Homo sapiens: one gene and its partners. The protein of the gene in region 1 purifies or fractionates together with the protein of each later gene. This does not show direct contact. Each region holds a gene or a part of one and is shown in the gene's direction. Other genes may lie near its edges.

Region 1 (3,820 bases):
AGCGCAGTACCTCCGCGGCTGGTCCCCGTCACAGCGTGGGTCTGTGTTCATTCCTTTGCATGGCCGTGTCGTATTCTGTGGGGACAGATGTGTGTCCACCCACTGGCGACAGGTGGGTTGTGGGCCTTGCGCCCAGTCGGCCGCCCCAGAGCCCGCGTCGCAGGCAGTCTCTGGCCCGCCTTGTGCCCGGCGTGCTGACCGGGCATCCCCGTGCCCGCTCGCAGGCCATGACGCTGATGGAGTACCTCATCAAGACCGGCTCGGAGCGCGTGTCGCAGCAGTGCAAGGAGAACATGTACGCCGTGCAGACGCTGAAGGACTTCCAGTACGTGGACCGCGACGGCAAGGACCAGGGCGTGAACGTGCGTGAGAAAGCTAAGCAGCTGGTGGCCCTGCTGCGCGACGAGGACCGGCTGCGGGAAGAGCGGGCGCACGCGCTCAAGACCAAGGAAAAGCTGGCACAGACCGCCACGGGTGAGTCCCTCCCTGCGGCCCCTGACGGCCTAGAGTCTGTCCTCCGCCTACTGCGGCTCCCGGCACCCGGCCGCCCACTGCTTTCTCTCCCAGCCAGGAGGGACCGCGGCATCCCCCTTTGCTTCTCCTCACCTGGGCCCCTTGCTCTGGTCTCACTTGGGCCCTTTTTTTCCCTTAGCACCTCCCATGCAGCAGCTCTGGGACCCTTCCTGCCTCTTGCCTCGTGCCCCAGGGCAGGCCTAGAATTGGGAACTTTTATTCCGCTCCCCCATAGGCTCAGGGCCTGAGGGTGATCAGTGCTGGGGACAGGGCTCTGAGGGGACACGCACAGTGACCCCCGAGGGTGCTGTCCTTCTCTCTGCGCTGAGATGAGGGGAACATCGGAGAGGCAGAGGGGGGCCTGGAAGAGGCACAGAAGGAAGGCCAGAGCCAGGGCCTGCAGGTTGCACCAGGCATCTGGGCCTGTGTTAGGAGCCTTGACAGTGCCTTCTGGAGGTGGAGGACTCAGTCTGGTGGGTGGTGACCAGCACCGAAAACAAAACTTGAAATAGTGCATCCCACATCGTCAAGCCAAGATCTGTCCCACGAAACATTTCCAGTTATGTGATGGGTGTGTGGGTCTCGGACTGTTCCAGGAAGTGTGGTCTGTGTTGGTCGGGGGCTCACAGCCGTGAAGAGGCTAGTCCGGCTGCTCAGGACTGGGAGGGAGGCTGGAGAATGTCTGCCAGGCTCTTCTGCTCTCCAGGAAGAGTGGAGGTGCCTCAGTTAGTGGGGATACGTGGGATGGGGAGGGGCTGCTAGAGCACTGCCCTGGAGGTGGAGGTGGGTCAGCCAGGCCGGTGCAGACAGGAGGAAGGGCCTGTGGCCCTCGTGGGGTCCGGCTCGAGGGACTGGACTTGTTTGGGGAAGTCTAGGCCTTCTGTTTGGACGGGTCTCATTTGGGATCACCTTTCAGCACCCACGGGGAGACATGGGTGTGACGGGGTGTGTGCGACCCTGCCTGGGACTCCAGAGTAGGGACCCACGAGCCAGTAGATGGGCGTGAACGCAGAGAGAGAGTGAAGTGGAGGGAAGGAAGCCGGTGTGGCGTGGGAGTGCTCAGAGCCAGGGACAACAGGAGGGAGTGTAGGCGGCAGAGAGGGGCTGGTCAGCTCGAGGCAGGCAGGCAGGCAGGTGGGTGGCGGGGTTGGGGTGGACGGAGGAGGGACATTGGCAGTAGCTCGGAGGAGAGTGGGAGCCTCAGGTAAGAGGCCTGAGGGTGGGACATCCTGGCTCGGGGGTCGTCAGACTTTGTGCAAGGCCAGAGCTAATGTCCTCTGCGTTGCTGGCCACGCCTTCCCATCCTAGCTGCCTGGCCCCGTCCGCTGGCGGTTGCTGGGAAGCAGCTGCACCCCTCCGACACTCACCAAGGTCTCCGAAATTTGAATTTTATGTAGTTTTCACGTGTCTTTTTTAAGACTTTTAAGTTGTTATTTAATTTTTTAAGGGTACTCTGAATTTTCGCCCATCTTGGTGCATTCTTTTCATTTCTTCCAACCATTGAAAAATGTAAAGGCCTTTCTTAGACCTTCTCAGGCCAGCTGTGGCTGCCACTGTGGTGTGCTGGCCCCTGTCTTGGAGTGAGTTGTGTGGAGGGCTGTGGCTGGGGAGGAGGATGGGGGCAGCTAGGGAGTGAGCCCTGAGACCCTCAGTGGGCAGGGAAGGGCCTGTGGTCCCCGGGCAGCACCGAGGCTGGGTGCTCTGGTGATGGGAAGGCCCGGGTGTTGCTGGCTGGGTGCCAGTATTACCTGTGATGTGGGAGGTGGGGCCCTCAGGGCTGCTGGGCATTGGATTTAGCCACCACCAGGCTGGGGGGTTAGGGGCATGTGCAAGGTAGAGGTTGGGCAATGGGGTGTAGATTCCCAGCACTCACCTCTGAGAGTCCCTAGAGCTTAGGAGGAAGTCACAGGGGCAGGGAAGAGCAGGAGGGGCCACAGGGGTGTGGTCCTCCCTGTGCGCTGGCCTCACCTGTGCCCCACGCTGCCCTTCCATCTGCCCATCCCCTCAGAAGGCCGCTTACCCACCCAAGTCCGTCAATCCCTGCTGGTTCTCTCGTCCTTTCCTCACTCATAACCCCAGATGGTCACCCTTCGGCCCCGCTCTGCCACCCACATGCTCCCTGGAGCATCCCATGCACCCAGCCCTGCTGGGCACACCACACGGGGGCCAGCCTGGGGGCCCCTGGACCCGGTGCAGGTGGGGCCGCCAGACAGCTGCCTGCTGCGGCTCCGGGCAAGGGGAGCCAGGGCCTGCTCGTCAGGGAGAGGCCTGGGCCTGGGGAGTGGGTTGGGTGGGGACACAAGTACAGGACACAGGTGCAAGGCGGCGTCTTGGAGCTGGAGCAGACAGAACTTGCTGACCAGTGCACAGTGGTTGGGAGGGCGGGGCAGGAGAGGCAGGGTCCGCCCTGGGGCTTTGGAGGCTGGGGCAATGGCCCTGTGCTCGGCGGGCCTAGGGCCTGGTTGGAGCCTGTCCTCTGCACTGTGGAGGGGGGCAAGGGTCCACAGGCCTTGGGGGTGGAGAGAACAGTGTCAGGACAGAGTTTGAGGGTAGGCGGGGTTGCTGAGAGGATGCTGCAGTGGAGGCCGGGGATATCTCAGCAGCCTCCTGGAGGGTCCGGCCCTGCCTTCCTGTGTCCTCTCTCTCCCTTCCCCTCCTGCTCTTGGAACCAAGGGCTCCTCGCTAGCCCACTCCCTAACCCCGACTAGGCCTTGGATCCCGCTGTCTCAATGGATGCTGTTCTCCCCTCTGAATTCCAGTTGTTCCCTGCCAGAGCTACCATTCTCAACAAGCCCTGGAAACAGGCCTGGGAAACCTGGGAGGAAGGACCTCCCATCCCCCAGGGGCCCAGGGACAGACCCCAGGCACGCGGAGAGTCCTGGTGGTGGCAGGGCTCAGAGGTTGCTGGGGTTCCCCACCTGCTTATCAGACTGACTTTTGCTCTGGTCCTTCCCTGATGCCTGGCCCCTCCCGTGGGTGGGGCTGCCTGCATCCCCACCCTTCCTCCTCTGAGCACCTGGCGTCTGGTCTCCGCCTCTCAGTCCTAGTCTTGGCCTGCAGAGGTTGTAGGGTGGGGGACTTGGGGGGTGGGGTTGGACACAGAAGCCCCCGTCTGTCTAGGCTATGGGGTTTCCTGTCTCTCGTTCCCTGGTCTGGGTCTCACGCGTTTCTCACCCGCCCTCCAGCCTCATCAGCAGCTGTGGGCTCAGGCCCCCCTCCCGAGGCGGAGCAGGCGTGGCCGCAGAGCAGCGGGGAGGAGGAGCTGCAGCTCCAGCTGGCCCTGGCCATGAGCAAGGAGGAGGCCGAC
Region 2 (3,820 bases), on another chromosome or scaffold:
CACATCTCTCTAGGAGGGTCTGGGCATGGAAGGATGCCCAGTTGTGAAGAGCACCCTCTCAGGATGGGGCACATACAGCAGGGCAGTTTCTCAGAGGCCCTCTTCCTTCAGGAAGCCTTCCTAGGATTTTGTTGTTGTTTGTTTGTTTGAGACAGGGTCTCACTCTGTCACCCAGGCCAGAGTGCAGTGGTGCTACCTCGGCTCACTGCAGTCTCGACCTCCTGGGCGCAAGTGATCATCCCACCTCAGCCTCCTGAGTACCTGGGATGACAGGTGGGCACCCTCACACCTGGCTAATTTATTTATTTTTTGTTTTTTTGTTTTTTTTTAGTAGAGATGGGGTCTCGCTATGTTGCCCAGGCTATTCTCCTGAGCTCAGGTGATCTGCCAGCCTTAGCCTCCCAAAGTGCTGGGATTACATGTGTGATCACTGCTCCCGGCCCCTTCCTATGTTTCTGGGGGTTTTGTATCCCCCTGGGCTTCAGAAGCCCTTTATACCATGGTATAATGCTAGGCTGGGTCAGCTGCTGGCAGAGGGTTCGAAGACCCCTAGGCCAGGCTCCCGACCCTGCCCTGACTTCACTCCAGAGCCACATTGCAGAATGACAGGGACCCTGTGAATGTCCGAGGGCTGGGGCTGCCTGGCAGGCTGCCAGTGCCTGGGGCTGAGCCAGGCTGGCTTATCTCTGTCTGGGGCATCTGGGATGGTGTGGCTGGTCCCTAGATCGTCCTGAGCCCTCTCCTTGCCTGGAGGCCCAGCTCAGGACAGCAGTCAGAACAGGCCCTGGGCCAGACTAGCCTTGGTGGGCCAGGAGGGACTGAACTGCTGACTGGGACCTCATGAGTCTGGGGAACCTGGGAGTGAAAACTCAGTGTGAGCCCCCCTGCTGGGACCCACCGCATGTGGCCTGGGGTATTCCTGGCCCCCGAGCCTCAGTTTCCCCATCTGTCCAGGTGTCTATAGGGATTGGACAGGTAGGTGCAGGTACTTCGAGGCCCAAAGGCCTGGCCTGACAAGGGCGCAGCAGCTTCTGCCCCGCCGGTCCCGAGCGCCCCACGGGCGAGTGCCACTCATACACAAACAGTGCTAATGAAGAACCTGATTTAAATGAAAACGTCTGAGTTAAAATTTTCCATTCCACATTTAGCTGTGGCGGACATTCTGCCCCTAAGCCACCCCTCTTGCTCGGCGGTATCTCCCTGCCAGCCCAGGCGGGACTTGGGGCCTCAGCCCGGGTGGGGCCTATGGTGGTGGTGCATGTCCCTGCCTGTGGCCCTGGAGGAGGGATTGGAACCTCGGGGCTGGGCCCCCTGGACCTGCCCTCCACCCGTAGCTTGGCTGGAGCCAGCCAGGAGGGGCTCAGAGGGACATGGCGGGCCAGACACTCCACCTCCAGCCCAGGCCCAGAGCCTGTCTTTGCCTGGCCCTCCGGCAGGCGAGCCTGGTGTGCACCATCAGGTCTGGGTGGGAGTGGAGCCTCCCCGAGCCTGGACCCAGACTACTGCCTGCTAGGCCCTGCCTGTGGGAATGCGTGTCTTTGAGTGTCCCTGAGCATCCACACATGGCCTCCCCTGTCCCCATGTGTCCTCATGCATCCTTGCATGTCCTTGTGTGTCCTCCCGTGTTCTTGCGCACCCTGAGAGTGCTTGTGTGTCCTCACACTTGCCCTATCCACAGAGGGGCAAAGGGAAGCCCAGAGAGTGGGAGGGCCGTGTCTGAGGCCCAGAGTGAGGGGCAGCCGAGCCGAGGCTGGATAGGGCTGGGTGCAGTGTGAGGAGGCATGTGTCTATGCATGCCTGTGTTCACGCGTGTTCACACATAGGTCTTGGTGGGTGAGTGATGTGCAGGCGTGTCTGCGTTCATGCATGTGCACCAGTGTGTGCACGTGTGCATGTCTGCATGCAAGTGTTCATGCATGTATATGTGTTTTGTATGCAGACATGATTGCATGTGTGCATGTGTGCCTTCTGTGCACCAGAACAGGTTGTCTGTGTGTTTATGTGTGTACATGCCTGTATATTTGTGTGTGTGCACACATACCCATGCACATGTGCCCTGGAGCATGTTTGTGTGTGTGTCCATGTCTTCACACGTGTCTGTAGGTGCCTGCGTGTGCTCCTCATCTTCTCTCCCACTGAGCCCTGAGAGCTCTGGGCCCTGGTGGGTTGGCCTGTGAGCTGGTCCCTGTTAGGCAGGATCTGACCTTGGGGACTACAGAGAGGACAGTTGCCTCACTCTGGAGGACTGGAGGAGTGGGCAGCAGCTCAGGTCCCAGTCAGAGAACCCACAACAAGCCTCCCCAACCCCTGGATTAGGGCCCATATGGGCCCTCACAGGCATGTGGCAGGTACCCGCACTGGGCAGGAGGGACCCGGTCACACTGCAGATTTCCCAAAGTAGCCCCACGGCTGCAAGGCTGCTGTCCAGCCCGCCTGGTGTGGGGGAGTCCAGGCTCAGGGAGGACACAGCAGTACCGCCTGCTTGGGCTGGCAGGGAGCTCAAGTCAGCATGGGGTTCAGGCCCCGCCTGCCTGATGGGCGAACACACCCCCAAGGCCCCCGTTAGGGCCAGGAGGCAGGCTGGCAGCCAGCGCAGGTGCAGAGGGGCCCCGAGGCTTCCATCCTGAGGTCAGCACTGGGAGGACAGAGGCTGCCTCCTTGCAGCCCGAGGGTTGACCAATGGCACTCGCCGCATCCCTTCCCAGAGCAGGCCAGCCCCACGGGCATCATGAGGGCCTGCGTTTGGTTTAATGCTCCGCTGTCAACATCTTGAAATTCTCTGTAATTTTTAAATAAGGGGCCCGCAGTTTCATTTTGCACAGACTATGTAGCCAGCCTTCCCCAGAAGGCTCGTGGAGAGCTCCACAGGCCCTGCCTCTCCCTGGGGGAGCTGCTCACCTGCCTGTGCCCATCTTGTTGGGCCGACCCTGCCTTAGGGGCCTGTGGTCCTGGCTGAATGGCGTTGCATTGGAGGCCAGGCACATGTTTGAGTGCTGCCTGTGTGCCAGGCAGGGCTGGGGAGGGTGGAAGGAAGCCTGGGGGCTGAGCCACTGGGCAGGGACAGGGAGAGCCCTCCCAGCAGAGGGAGGTGTGGCCGCAGCTGTGTCCTCACCCTGGTGTCTACCTCCACGGGCTGGGCCCTGGACAAGAGGAAGGGTAACTTGGGCTCCCAGCCCCGCCGAGGATGGCTGTCGTGGGAAGCGGAGTCTTTAAATAGCCTCTTGCTTTCCACTAAAAATAGTGAAGCTCTGCTGCCGTGGAGGTGGTTGCCGGGGCGGCGGGGCTGGCTCTTGGCCAGGCGGGCGTGGGTGCAGCAGCGTGGCCACGTGCGCTGGAGTGGTAGGCAGCGCGTGGGCCCCATCCACTGCTAGTGGCCATAGAGGTCAGGGCTGCTGTGGGGGATCCCCACTAGCCCCCCGACTATGCAGAGGGCCTGGGTGCAGGGAGGGACGCAAACCCCTGTGTTCCTGTCCCTGCTGCTTGTCACAGCAGCTGTCTCAGGGTGCGCAGGGGAGAGACAAGGAGCCTGAGGCCAGAGGGGCTTCTTGGAAGCTGAGTGGGTGGATTTAGGAACCCGCTGCAGGCCGTGTGGCCCGAGGACCGGCAAGTCTCTTCAGAGGGGACTCGGGCCAGGCCCGTTAAGGGCTGAGGAAGGCGCCTTTCAGGAAGGTGTGTGAGGGCACACCTTATAGGGAAGCTGCAGAGGGCAGCCTGGAGTCCTGGAAAGCTTCCCGGAAGAGGGGGTGGCCTTGGAGCCAAGTGCTGATGGCTGGGAAGATGGGAAGTGGTGGGGGGTGTTGTGCATTCTAGAGTCCCTAAG
Region 3 (3,820 bases), on another chromosome or scaffold:
AGGAAATAGTATGCCTCTTGGCACTTCTGGATCCTCTTGCCCCTGACAAAAACCAAACCAAACCTTCTTTCTGGATAGGGTTTAGACTTATGCCATATGACTTAGTTGTTAATGTTCTTTTGCAGACCATCAGCAGAGCCTTTATGAATGGCAGTGCACTGGAACATGTGGTAGAATTCGGCTTAGATTATCCAGAAGGCATGGCAGTAGACTGGCTTGGGAAGAACTTGTACTGGGCAGACACAGGAACGAATCGAATTGAGGTGTCAAAGTTGGATGGGCAGCACCGACAAGTTTTGGTGTGGAAAGACCTAGATAGTCCCAGAGCTCTCGCGTTGGACCCTGCCGAAGGGTAAACAGCTTTACATGTGCATTCTTTGCAACTGCAGTGTACATTTCGGGGAACATGGCATAGTTACAGATGATATTCTTAATGTTTTAAATAATACGTATTAGGAATCTGAGAACTAAATGATAGATGAACTTTTAAAAACACTATTGATATTTTGCTGATTTGAATGAATAATTATTAGCTAATTTTACTCTTGTCGTAATTAACTTTAGGTGAAGAAAGAGGGGAATGGGTTAATAAATGTTACTGATGAGTATACTGATATGTTAAGTATATATACCAAGAGGTATTATCCATCTGTAGTTGCTTGCACTCCTTCCCAGTTATACTAGATTCCAAGCCTATTGAAGTAAACCCACCGAAACAATGTTGTGAGCTAAGAAAAAACTACATTTAAAAAGCTTTATTTTGGAGTATTTATTAATTCAAAATGGATAGTTTGGTTTGATCATTATTATAAACTGGCAGTAGCTTTGTTATTACAAGATAGAATAAACTGTTCACAACATGATGTTTTTCAAGGGCGAGTGTTCCTTTTTACAAGAGTCAGCAAATTTTTTAAAGCCGGCAGCTAAGAAATCTGAAATCTAAAGAAAAATTCCACTTATAAAAGAAGTCAACAGGCCGGGCGTGGTGGCTCACGCTTGTAATCCCAGCAACTTTGGGAGGCCGAGGCGTGGGCAGATCACAAGGTCAGGAGTTCGAGACCAGCCTGGCCAACATGGTGAAACCCCGTAACTACTAAAGATAAAAAAAAATTAGCCAGGCATGGTGGCATGTGTCTGTAGTCCCAGCTACTCTGGAGGCTAAAGCAGGAAAATTGTTTGAATCTGGGAGGTGGAGGTTGCAGTGAGCCGAGATCGTGCCACTGCACTCCACCCTGGGCAACAGAGCAAGACTCCATCTTGGAAAAAAAAAAAGAAGTAAACAGTGTGAACATATAAATATGTTTACTGTATTTGCTACTTAAAATAATTTCCCTGAAGTGACATTGATTCCATGATTAGCTAGTAATTCATCTAGTCAGCACTGACATATTGTGGTGATCTTTGCTCTAAACATTAGCTGCCAGACAGATAAATTTAATAGTTGGGACTAATTGGTTGCTGCTGGCAAGTATGAAATTTCTCTCACAGTTGTTTCTCTTTGGCTCTTGTGGTGTGCACATGCCTGTCAAATGACAAGTGCAAATGCATATAAAGGCAGGACACCTTCAGTTTTCAGAAAAGCATGTTCATACATTGCTACCAAGTCAGCTATCAGCTGACAGGCTGATGAGTGAATATATGTCCTCAGGTATTTCGTGAGAGCTGGCATGTGATGTGCTTTTTTAGTTCCAGTATTCAAGAGTCTCAAAAACTAGCACCTCACTAGTTTACTTGAAAGGGCATTTGGCCAAGGATTAGGTTCTAGTTCTAGCTCTGTCATCTAACTGGCTTGAAGACATTAGATAAGTTGTTCACATTTCTTGTAGTGTTTTGGGCTCTTCATCTATAAAAAGCCTATACTGTAGGATTACTGTAAGATTAAAGTGCAAAACTCAAAAATGGAAAATAACAGCAAAGTAATTATTCTAAAATTTCACAGAGATTGTTGTAGCGTAGTGTAGTGTTCATTGCCCAGTGGACACATCAAGGGGTGAGTCGTTGTTCTTACCATATAGTATGCTCCCTTGGACCATATGACCAAATACATTTTCAAGCTTTGCTTTTGACTTCAGTTAAAGGCTTAGTATTTATAATTACCTTTCATGTACTTCTGCAACTTATTTTGAGGAAGAGTTGATTACACAAGTCAAAAAGTAAGTTCAGCATATTAAAAACTCAAATTAGTTAATATTCAAAAGTATATAAAAATATTTTACTCAGAAGTGAACCAGATTCTGAGACCAGAGCTTTAAACCTTTGCTGTTTTCTTGAATGTTAATTTTACAAATGCCAGTACTGCAATAAACTGTTGGTTTATTTCCAATTCCTAGGTTTGGATGGAACAAATGTATTGGAAAGACTAAGGAAAGCTGACTCACTTCCTTTTTGGGATATGGAAAAAAATATTTAGTTTAGGGTGCCAAAATAATTGAAAGCATTGTAGCCGTGATTTTGTTTAACCCATTTCCTTGATTTGCTGTATGTTTTCTTTAAATTTATTTAGTTACTTTGCATGAATATGACTCTTTCCCCCAGATAATAAAAAATTGAAATGTTAAATATTTATTATTTTGAATTTAGATTTATGTATTGGACTGAATGGGGTGGAAAACCTAAGATAGACAGAGCTGCAATGGATGGAAGTGAACGTACTACCTTAGTTCCAAATGTGGGGCGGGCAAACGGCCTAACTATTGATTATGCTAAAAGGAGGCTTTATTGGACAGACCTGGACACCAACTTAATAGAATCTTCAAATATGCTTGGTAAGCTTTACTACTTTTTACTCAAACAGTATATTCTTTCCATGCAAATATCAGTGGCTGCTATTTATCATTGGTTAGATACTTTTAATACAACTTCATATGAATGTGTCCATTCTTCTTCTGTTCTGGAATTGTATCCTGTTTGTTATTAATAGTGATCCAGGTACTTGGATTCATCTTTTTATTATGTGAAAGTTTCATTATTATTGGACTTGTAATGAAATTTATAACTCCCTAGATACTCCTGAAATGACTTTTGTACCAGTAAAATATATATATTTCCATCTTTTCCTTCTATAGTTCAAGAAGAAAAAGTGAACTGTAGACCCTTATATAGAGAAAATAAAACCACATTTAAAGTAGACCATTTGCAAGAATTTTAGGAAACTGAGTGATTTGTAGCAGGAATATAAGTTTGAAGCATGGGGTCAGAAGATAGATTGATTTCAGAGAATTGGTCTCGTTTTAGAATTGCTTTTAAATGAATTTTTCTATTTTAAATTGCTTACAATGTAATGTTTTATATGTTAGGGCTTTTTTTTTTCTTTTTGCCAGCAAGACACTTGTATTCTCACATATTTCATCACTCTGCTTCTCCCCTGTCTACTGCCTTTCTGAAAATAGGGCTCAACCGTGAAGTTATAGCAGATGACTTGCCTCATCCTTTTGGCTTAACTCAGTACCAAGATTATATCTACTGGACGGACTGGAGCCGACGCAGCATTGAGCGTGCCAACAAAACCAGTGGCCAAAACCGCACCATCATTCAGGGCCATTTGGATTATGTGATGGACATCCTCGTCTTTCACTCATCTCGACAGTCAGGGTGGAATGAATGTGCTTCCAGCAATGGGCACTGCTCCCACCTCTGCTTGGCTGTGCCAGTTGGGGGTTTTGTTTGTGGATGCCCTGCCCACTACTCTCTTAATGCTGACAACAGGACTTGTAGTGGTAAGCTGCATTTCCCTCCAAAGCAAGCTAGAATGAGAGAAAGCAGCATTTTCAAAGTACTTTAGTGTGTGTTTTTTCTAAAGTTAAATAGTGTGGAAATCCAG
Region 4 (3,820 bases), on another chromosome or scaffold:
TTTAACATGAGGTGGTTTACGTGTTTGGGTTCAGAAGTCAGAGTGTCTAGGTTTGTTCCAGGTTTTGCCGTTCGTTAACTGAGTGACCTTGGGCGAGTCATTTTTTTCTGTTTCATTTTTTTCTCACGTATAAAGCTGTGGACAGTAATAGTGGTTGTGAGGATTAAGTGAATGAATTCATGCAAAGCACTTCAAACAATGCTTGGCACATAATAAATGTATTTACTGTGCTATTTCAGCTGTTTTCTGTAGCCTTTCCCTGATCTCCTAAACTTGAGAGGACAGAGAGAACTATCTCTGTAATACAGATGAGAGGCACAGGATTTCAACACTTCCATAAAGTCATTCAGCTTGTTAGTTTATTATTATTATTAGCTTATTGTCATTTTTATTTTATTTCGTTACTTTATTCCTTTTTTTTTTTTTTGGTAGAGATGGGGTCTCACCATGTGGCCCAGGCTGGTCTTGATCTCCTGGGCTTAAGCGATCCACCTACCTTGGCGTCCCAAAATACTGAGATTACAGGCATAAGCCCCCATGCCTGGCTAGTTGTTATTTTTATGAGTATCACTAGAACTCAGGTCTCTTGTTTCCACATCTAGGTGTTCTTCGAAAAAGAAAGTGGAAGCAAAATCATATGCTTAAAGAAAGTCAGCTTTAGTTGCTAAAATCCTCTATTTCCCATTCTTCAAAGCTGACTGACAATTCAAAAGTTGTTTTTCCCATCTTCAGTCCCACCCCAGATTGGTGAGAAATCTCTAATCTCTCCTGTGGATTCCTACCAGTACGGCACCACTCAAACGCTGACATGTACGGTCTATGCCATTCCTCCCCCGCATCACATCCACTGGTATTGGCAGTTGGAGGAAGAGTGCGCCAACGAGCCCAGGTGAGTAAGGCCACATGCTCTTTGCTTTCCTGCCATCTTGCATTTCTTACAGCTGAGCTATGATATGACTCCATCCTAAATGGAGAAGCCTAAACCAAAAAAAGTTTTCTCTCAAGAGGTAGCCTGAATCTCCATCCATCTTTCTCTGTGTCTTACATTTTAGGGGATGTCTTTGCTTGGAGTATCCTCCTTTGGGGTTAGCTAAGCTCAGCCTTGTTAGGTTAGCCGTGAGGTACACTTCTCCAAACACAGGCTATTTGCTCAGTTTGCTAATTGCCAGTCTTTGGTTTTTCTCCCGATACCAATCGGCTGGTGAATACCACATCCCTCCTTCTTGTGTGTGTGAAGATCCATCTCTCAGAGGAAATGCTGATAGATGAGAGGCAGTGATAGACCCAGCCCCAGTCCTCAGGGTCTCAGGCCCAGCTTATCATGCTCTGACACAAGTCCAGACATCCTTAGGGAAAAACACAACAACAGCAGCCAACCCACCACCACCCTAAGCAGTCCACTTCCTGTTGTTGTTTTTGAAATGGCCACTATGAGCTTCTTCCTCAGCTGCTGATCATTTCCTTCACAGAGACCATGGTCCCAGAGAAATTACTTTAAGGAGCCCAGTGGCTTCTAAGTTTCCTTGCCTTCCTTTGAACTAAATTAACTTGAATTGTCTTGTCGATCCAATTTATGAATGAAGGTTTATTCCCAGAATAGCTGCTTCCCTCCTGTATCCTGAATGAATCTACCTAGAACCTTTTCCTTCATTGTCAATGCCTATTTTTAATTGGCGCCAAGTCTTGTACCATGGTAGGCTGCGTTGGAAGTTATTTCTAAGAACAGAATAACCAAAGTCTGAATCTTTTCCTTACTCTTGACTCTAATTAAAGAAAAATTAAATCATAATATGCGCTGTTATCTCTTTCTTATAGCCAAGCTGTCTCAGTGACAAACCCATACCCTTGTGAAGAATGGAGAAGTGTGGAGGACTTCCAGGGAGGAAATAAAATTGAAGTTAATAAAAATCAATTTGCTCTAATTGAAGGAAAAAACAAAGTGAGTTTGAAGTTTTAAAATTTGAAAATCTCTCTCTCTTTAATGGAAGGATGGTACAATAATATGTGAGGCATATTGGAGATTAATAATCAAATAGTCTGGATGATTAAATAGAGCGTATTAAGTCACTTTGAAAATACCATTGACTTTTAGCAGTACCATTAACTTATTAATAGCTTATCAGAGAAAAATAAAAACATCTATGACATTAAATCTATGCATCTGTGTAGGGTGATTCTGATTTTATAAACATGAGAATGAAAAAATGTGTATCATATCATATTAAAACACATCATTAGTTTCATGGCTTCCAAAGCCCTTTTTATATAATGTGTGAGCTCCACAGCAGCATAATTATACAAATTGAGTAAATATCCCAAACCTAAAAACCCCAAATCCAAAATGCTCCAGATTCTGAACCTTTTTGAGTGCCGACATGGTGCTCAAAGGAAACGCTCGTTGGAGCATTTTGGATTTTCAGATTAGGGATGCTCAACTGGTAAGTATACAATGCAAATATTCCAAAATCCAAAAAAAAAAATCCAAAATCCAAACCACTTTTGGTCCCAAGCGTTTTGAGTAAGGGATACTCAACCTGCAATTGCATAAATTTGAGCGTGTCCAACCGCTGCAGAAGTGGGAATGGCATAGGCAGGTTGGAGTGATTGTGGAGACTGCTGGACTGAGTGCTTGTGCACAAACAGCCGCGTTGTTTATGGCCTGGGATTTGTTTTTTCCCCGCACAGACTGTAAGTACCCTTGTTATCCAAGCGGCAAATGTGTCAGCTTTGTACAAATGTGAAGCGGTCAACAAAGTCGGGAGAGGAGAGAGGGTGATCTCCTTCCACGTGACCAGTAAGTACTCTTCTCTGGAGGTTTGGGTTGGATCACTCACACAGTGGGTACTAAGCTATGTAATTCCCTGTTGTTTTTGCCATTCATGTGAGTGGCATGGCATTTAGGAAAGAGGACTTGGATTGATCATTGATGCTTTCATTCATAAATTACAACTTCTCAGGTATCTCCTGGGCTTATGTGAAGTCAGTGCGTCTAACTACACTGGAGAGAGAATGGTTTCACAGATGCTTTAAACCACAAGCTCTGTGTGGTATTTACATCTCAGTCTTCAGAGTCTGGCACAGTGCCTGGCTTATTGAGCTTCAGTACATATTGGTGGGCTTGCTGTGGAACAGTTGATGAGGGTGGGCTTTATGGAGGCAATCAGAAGGACATAGGAGCAGTGCCCTCCCAATGCTGCCGATTTTGCCTGTGCATCTTAGTTTTATGGATAAGCTTTAGCTGATTGTGCTGAATGGAATATTATAGCCAGGGCTAATTCATTGGCATAAATGTAGCTTTCATATCATTGAGTGTTAGTGTTAATGAAGACCTAATTTTAAAATTCTGTTAGAATTAGAGATTTTGCTTTGGATTTTTAATATATTAAACATTGCGTAGAGCTCATAGTGGAGATGTGGTAAATATCTGAGGAATTCGTTTACATTTTCAAGTAATGTGTTTGGCCAAATAAGATATTTTGGGACCTGAATTGTCTAGTTTGTTTGTCAAGTTGTAGTACATCACCTGGAACGGATAGAGCTTCATTTCTTTTGGTACTTTGTAGTAGTCTGAAAGCAGCAAGATGATAGTGAGCTGTACCAAGTTAAATCACCATTCAATAACTATGGCCTCTTCATTTTAGGGGGTCCTGAAATTACTTTGCAACCTGACATGCAGCCCACTGAGCAGGAGAGCGTGTCTTTGTGGTGCACTGCAGACAGATCTACGTTTGAGAACCTCACATGGTACAAGCTTGGCCCACAGCCTCTGCCAATCCATGTGGGAGAGTTGCCCACACCTGTTTGCAAGAACTTGGATACT

What was found.
Region 2: the proteins of EPN1 (region 1) and ZDHHC8 fractionate together in Homo sapiens (co-fractionation; one large-scale study listed by BioGRID). This does not show direct contact.
Region 3: the proteins of EPN1 (region 1) and LRP6 purify together in Homo sapiens (affinity purification with western blotting, with the first as the bait; one study listed by BioGRID). This does not show direct contact.
Region 4: the proteins of EPN1 (region 1) and KDR purify together in Homo sapiens (affinity purification with western blotting; one study listed by BioGRID). This does not show direct contact.

The regions. Positions count from the first base shown.
Region 1 is NC_000019.10:55,685,172-55,688,991, forward strand, and holds part of EPN1 (epsin-1), read left to right. Parts: intron 1-224; coding exon 225-474; intron 475-3,698; coding exon 3,699-3,820. UniProt on the Homo sapiens protein: Binds to membranes enriched in phosphatidylinositol 4,5-bisphosphate (PtdIns(4,5)P2). Modifies membrane curvature and facilitates the formation of clathrin-coated invaginations. Regulates receptor-mediated endocytosis.
Region 2 is NC_000022.11:20,134,802-20,138,621, forward strand, and holds part of ZDHHC8 (palmitoyltransferase ZDHHC8), read left to right. Parts: intron 1-3,820. UniProt on the Homo sapiens protein: Palmitoyltransferase that catalyzes the addition of palmitate onto various protein substrates and therefore functions in several unrelated biological processes.
Region 3 is NC_000012.12:12,158,725-12,162,544, reverse strand, and holds part of LRP6 (low-density lipoprotein receptor-related protein 6 isoform b precursor), read left to right. Parts: intron 1-125; coding exon 126-352; intron 353-2,580; coding exon 2,581-2,765; intron 2,766-3,389; coding exon 3,390-3,716; intron 3,717-3,820. UniProt on the Homo sapiens protein: Component of the Wnt-Fzd-LRP5-LRP6 complex that triggers beta-catenin signaling through inducing aggregation of receptor-ligand complexes into ribosome-sized signalosomes.
Region 4 is NC_000004.12:55,104,806-55,108,625, reverse strand, and holds part of KDR (vascular endothelial growth factor receptor 2 precursor), read left to right. Parts: intron 1-732; coding exon 733-889; intron 890-1,815; coding exon 1,816-1,939; intron 1,940-2,685; coding exon 2,686-2,794; intron 2,795-3,641; coding exon 3,642-3,820. UniProt on the Homo sapiens protein: Tyrosine-protein kinase that acts as a cell-surface receptor for VEGFA, VEGFC and VEGFD. Plays an essential role in the regulation of angiogenesis, vascular development, vascular permeability, and embryonic hematopoiesis.